Linked DNA regions of Homo sapiens: region 2 is linked to region 1. A link means that fine-mapping ties the variant in region 1 to the expression of a gene that starts in the linked region. Tissue or cell type: sun-exposed skin. Region 1 holds a variant in brackets; the other region holds the start of a gene. All regions are shown on one strand. Distances are from middle to middle. Region 1 overlaps TARS3 (threonyl-tRNA synthetase 3). Region 2 holds the start of TARS3 (threonyl-tRNA synthetase 3).

What was found.
Region 2: it holds the start of TARS3, and the variant in region 1 is fine-mapped to the expression of TARS3 in sun-exposed skin (GTEx, PIP above 0.99). The same link has a PIP of 0.9 or more in esophagus mucosa.

Annotation. Positions count from the first base shown.
Region 1 is chr15:101,691,384-101,694,293 of GRCh38, reverse strand. All of the region lies in intron 10 of TARS3 (threonyl-tRNA synthetase 3), which reads left to right. Among named protein-coding and RNA genes, the nearest start is that of TARS3, 32 kb to the left of the region's middle. The variant C/T (reference allele first, on the strand shown) is at 1,237.
Region 2 is chr15:101,723,180-101,726,089 of GRCh38, reverse strand. It overlaps TARS3 (threonyl-tRNA synthetase 3), which reads left to right and starts at 1,617. Exons shown (of 19, transcript NM_152334.3): 1 at 1,617-1,999. The coding sequence starts at 1,703. RefSeq lists a silencer at 1,332-2,221.

The sequences.
Region 1 (2,910 bases):
TAGGAGGCCAGGATGGGCTGGGTGTGCACACTGCTCCCACTGAGGGAAATTTCAGGATTTCTGAGTTTTTGACTCAGGTAAAATGACTTCCACTTAGGTTTAAGTAAAGGCAAGTGAACTTTTGTTTGTATATTAGTTACTGACTGTGTGGACAACTGATAGTGAATAAATAGATCTTTTTGTTAGTCTCCTTGAATTTTTTTTTCCCTGCATTCTGGAAAATATCTGTCAGCTGATTCTGTACTTTTCTTACCTTTTTTTAAATTAACTTTTTTAATTGTCATGCAGTAAAATGTACGCCTTTTTGATAACATGCAGAACTGTGTTATCACCTCAGCAATCAAGATACAGAACAGTTCCGTCACCCCTCAAAACTCCCTCATGCTACCCTTTTAAAATCAAATCCTCCCCAGCCCTGACCTCAGGGAACGGCTGATTTTTTCTCTACCCCTAAAATATTGGCATATAAATGGAATCATACTTTTATAAAACCTTTAGAGACTGACCGCTTTCACCCAGCATAACACCCTGGAGATGCATCCGAGTTGAGTGTCCCCAGCGGGCCTCTGCTTTTGTCCCTGGGCAGTATTCCATCATATGAACATACCACTGCTTCAGATCCATCCTGCAGTTGAGGGGCATTTGGGTTGTTTTCAGCTTTTGGCAGTTATGAAAACTGCTATTGTCATTCATGTACAGTTTTTTGTATGAACATAGGTTTTCATTTTACTAGAGTAAATACCTAGGAGTGTGATTTCAGGGTCATATGGTGATATGGTTTGGCTGTGTCCACACCCAAATCTCACCTTGAATTGTAGTAATCCCCAAGGGTCAGGGGTGGGGCCAGGCGGAGATAATTGAATCGTGGGGGTGGTTTCCCCCATACTGTTCTTGTGGTGGTGAATAAGTCTCTTGAGATCTGATGATTTTATAAAAGGGAGTTCCCCCGCACAAAGTCCCTTGCCTGCTGCCATTTAAGATGTGCCTTTGCTTCTCCTTTGCCTTCCACCGTGATTGTGAGGCCCCCCCACCAGCCATGCTGAACTGTGAGTCCATTAAACCTCTTTCCTTCATAAATTACCCAGTCTTGGGTTTGTCTTTATTAGCAGTGTGAGAATAGATATGGTAAATTTAAGTTTATAAGAAAATGCCAAACTATTTTCCAAAATGACTACTGTTTTGCATTCCCACCAGCTGTGCATGAGGGTTGCTTTTGTAAAGCTCATCTCAGTCACA[C/T]CTTTTGCATTTCCTGGAATCTGCCTGACTTGTTGATGCATGTCTTGAAACCCTGGAGTGGGGAGGGGAGTGGCTTCTCTTGTTGTTATATTAATAACCCACTTGGGGAATTTTTGCTTCCTCTTCACACAACCTTAGATGGAGTGAATTTCTAGACCAAGCTTGTCTTTGTGAACATGGCAGGCCTCAAAACATTCAGCTCTTCTGCAGGGAGAGTCCTGAAAGATGCACTCCAAGGGTTTAACTGAAGAGAGTCTAGTGAAGGAAGTATTTATGGAGATATGGGCCTGGCTAAGGTAACTAACAAGGGATGATAGAGCGCCCAGGGATTACCAATAGCAAGAATCCCTTCCCCTCCATCACTAGGCCTGCAGAAGTGAGGAGATGGAGTAGTAATACTAGAACCCACAGAGAGCTTGGAGCCATGGAGGAGAGAAGTGAGGAGATGGAGTAGTAATACCAGAACCCACAGAGAGCTTGGAGCCATGGAGGAGAGAAGTGAGGAGATGGAGTAGTAATACCAGAACCCACAGAGAGCTTGGAGCCGTGGAGGAGAGAAGTGAGGAGATGGAGTAGTAATACCAGAACCCACAGAGAGCTTGGAGCCGTGGAGGAGAGAAGTGAGGAGATGGAGTAGTAATACCAGAACCCACAGAGAGCTTGGAGCCGTGGAGGAGAGAAGTGAGGAGATGGAGTAGTAATACCAGAACCCACAGAGAGCTTGGAGCCGTGGAGGAGAGAAGTGAGGAGATGGAGTAGTAATACCAGAACCCACAGAGAGCTTGGAGCCGTGGAGGAGAGGCCACACAACAGAAGCTGTAACTGTGGAACACAGCCAGAACCTGAGTAAACCCACAGCAGGGAGAACCAGGGAAAGAAATATCCAGACCTCTCTCTTCCACTACCCTGTGAATCCTTTGGAACTTCCCATTGGTCAGACCCAATCAGAAACCATATGGAAAGTATATTGGCATGTCAGGATTCTCCACAGAAACAGAACCAACAAGATACATAGAAAAGAAGAGATTTATTATGAGGAATTGGCTTGTGTGATTATGGAGGCCAAGAAATCCCATGATCTGAGGGTCCAAGAAAGTTGGAGATGTAATTCTCGCCTGAGTGCAGAGGCCTGAGAACCAGGGGAGCTGATGAATCTAAAAAAAGGAGAGAGCTCAGGTACATACACAGAGAATTAAACAGTGCTTACCATGGTCAGGGGTTGGGGGGAAGAAATGGGGGGATATAGATCAAAGGATACAAAATAGATATCTAGGATCAACAAGGCCAGAGATCTAATACAGAACATGAGGACTAAAGTTAACAAAATTATATTTATCAGGGAGTTTTGTTAAGTAATTAGATTTTAACTGCTCTTGTCACACACACAAAAAAGGTAACTCTTTTACTATTTGTGTCCTATAACATCATGTTGTGAATCTCAAATATGTGAAATAAAATTTATTGAAGAAAATTTAAAAGGCTGGGCATAGTGACTCACTCTTGTAATCCCAGCACTTTGGGAGGCTGAGAGGGGTGGATCGCTTGAAGCCAGGAGTTCGAGACCAGCCTGGCCAACATGGTGAAACCCTGTGTCTACTAAAAATACAAAAATTAGCCAGGCGTAGTGGTGCACATTTGTGATCTCAGCTACTTGGGAGGCTGAGGCAGGAGAAT
Region 2 (2,910 bases), 32 kb before region 1:
ACTCAGAAAAAAAGAACAATAGATACACACAAACATAGGTAAATATCAAAATTATTGTGCCGACTGAAAGTAGCTAAACAAAAGGAGGACATACGGTGTGGTTCCATGTGTAGAAAAATCAAGAAAATGCAAACTAACCTATAGTGACAGGAAGCAGACTGGTGGTTGCCTAGGTATTGGGAATGGAGACCCAAGAGAGACAAATTCCAGAGGGTCCCGAGGAAATTCTGGGGTGGCTTAAGTGGGTCCATGACATTCAGTGATGTGTTGGTCATGACAGAATGGCAGAAGCAGAAACTCCATGGCAGTGGATTGAGAAATGATGAATAATGAGGAGTCAGTGGGTCCTATGTAACTGTATCCAGAGGCTTCCTGAGGAAGGACTAAAAAAGATACAGTGATATTGGTTAGCAACATACTTCATGGAATCTCCTCCTGGGTGCTGTTTGGGATTCCACTTAGCTTAATCCAATGAGCTTGTCCCCCTCCGCTCCTTCTCCTGCACTGATTCTGCTCCTGGAGTGGAATTTACCTGCTTTTCCTCCTTGCTAACATCTCCCAACCTTTATTTTCCAGAGCAAAATAAACCTTTTCCCCTTTCTCAAAATTTTCTCCCTTTCTCAAACCACACCAGTCCAAGCTAAGCTCTTCCACTTCAGGACTCTTATAAGGGCATTATTACCTGTATCACATTATATGACATGCTCAATTAAATTCTGCCAAAGTTGAAAAGTACTAGTGTTAAGTGTGTAGAAACTGGCATCAGACTATCTGAGTTTGATTCCCCCTTTGTCATGTAGTGGCTGTGTGACCTTAGTCAAGTAACACAGTCTCACTGTGCTTCAATTTCTCCAGCTATAAGCGGATATAACAGTATCTCCTGTTATGAAGATTAAAGGAGTTACTACTGTTACAGAGTTTAGAACAGTGTTTGTCACATCCTAAGCCCTAAGAATAGTGATAAAAATCAATTTCTGTTCCTGCTCCAGGAAGTTTCACGCTCATGGTTAAGAGGGATACAAAGATATATGTGGCATTTGCCCTAGACTCAAGGAGCCAGTAATTTCGTGCTGGTCGGATTTAGATTTCACAGCGATTTTCTATATGCCCTGGCCCAGAGGCCTCAGTACTTGGGCAAGTTTGGCACGAAAGGCCAGAAAGTCCATTTATAATGAATGGCCACTTTTTAGAACCTGTTTGCAAGGCAAAAGAATGGTGACTGCCAGAATTCAAGAGGAAGAAAGGGTGAAGCCTTTTTGGAGAACGCAGACGATGGCCTTTTTGCAAGGTTTTGGAAGATTTTCGTTTCAACGGACTAAAAACTACTGCCAATAGCCTCTAGACAGGCCTCGAAAGGCAGGGGAGGCCCTTCAGACCCCATTTCCCCACTGCCCGTGACCCTAAGGTGGGCCTGGCCTCAGGCCCCGCCCCGCCCCGCCCCTGCAGGGTATCTGGCCTCAGGCCCCGCCCCGCCCCGCCCCGCCCCTGCAGGGTATCTGGCCTAGGCCCCGCCCCTCCCCGCCCAGCGCCCCGCCCCTGCAACGTGTAGGCCTCGGCTCCAACGAGGCCCCATGGCTCCGTCCCCGCCCCATCGCCCCGCCCCTCCCGGGAGCCCTGTCTTCTGCCGTGCGCTGAGTGTCCGCGTCGCCCTCGCCGCAGTCGCGGGCACCCCGCTCGGCGTCGGTGCCTGAGGGAGGCCGCGATGGCGGCCGAGGCCCTGGCGGCGGAGGCCGTGGCGTCGCGCCTGGAGCGGCAGGAGGAGGACATCCGCTGGCTGTGGTCGGAGGTCGAGCGCCTGAGGGACGAGCAGCTGAACGCGCCCTACAGCTGCCAGGCGGAGGGGCCGTGCCTCACGCGGGAGGTGGCGCAGCTCCGGGCCGAGAACTGCGACCTGCGCCACCGCCTGTGCAGCCTGCGGCTGTGCCTCGCCGAGGAGCGGAGCCGCCAGGCCACGCTGGAGAGCGCGGAGCTAGAGGCGGCGCAGGAGGCCGGCGCACAGGTAACCGGGCGGTGGGGACACTGGAGAGGACGCGGGCGGGGCGGGCCGAGACGGTGCGCACCGAAAGGTTTTCAACTGCGGGGGCAGGTGCGGGGGCGCCCCGGGGGAGTGCCCTCCCAGTGCCCTGCGGCTGGCCCGCCCTGCCCTGCTCGGTGGTCCCGTGTGGCCTGGGGAGCCGCCGGATTTCCAGCAGTCGCCAGACTTAACCAAATGCTGTTGATTTCTCAATTCGTCCATTAAAGAGCCTGCCACGCATCTTTTTCAGTAGCAGAAATAGTGTTTTCATTTGTTTGAAAAAATGCTGGAGTGTTTAAAACTCATTCTTTCCTTGGTCAGAAAGACTAACAGCTGCGTATGTAAACTCTCATTCCCTCTGGTTCTTTTTTGTTGTTGGGTTTTTTTTGGACGAGAAGTTTTCGCTTTTTGTGCTCTTGTTTTGGTGGTTCATCTTGAGAGGATAGCTGTATATTTAACATTTTTATTTAATACAGTATTTTATGATTTGTAGAAAGGATAAATTATCTTCTTTTAACATCATACTTTCTGAGTCCTGAAGCTTCTCAGGCTGAGATGTTCTGCAGTCCTTTAGGAAGGACAGCTGCGGTGAACTAGCAACATCTTCAGGAAATAGTGCATTTGATGTGGCGGGCAGCAACCACACATTTTCCAGCCACATTATTTGTTTAAAGTTCAGGACAAAAGGTTTTCAAGAGCACAATATATTAAATGTGCTTAGCAACAGTGTGACAGGAAGGACTGAACCCTGGAGAATGACTTGCCCACTGAGAGCTGTAGCTGGTGGTCAGGAGAGCCCAGCTATGAGCCTCTAAACACGGGGCACTTGCAGCCTGCTGGCATGACTCTCTTCTTAAAATGTGTTGCTTTTTCTTGCCATTGATGTGAGTCATTTA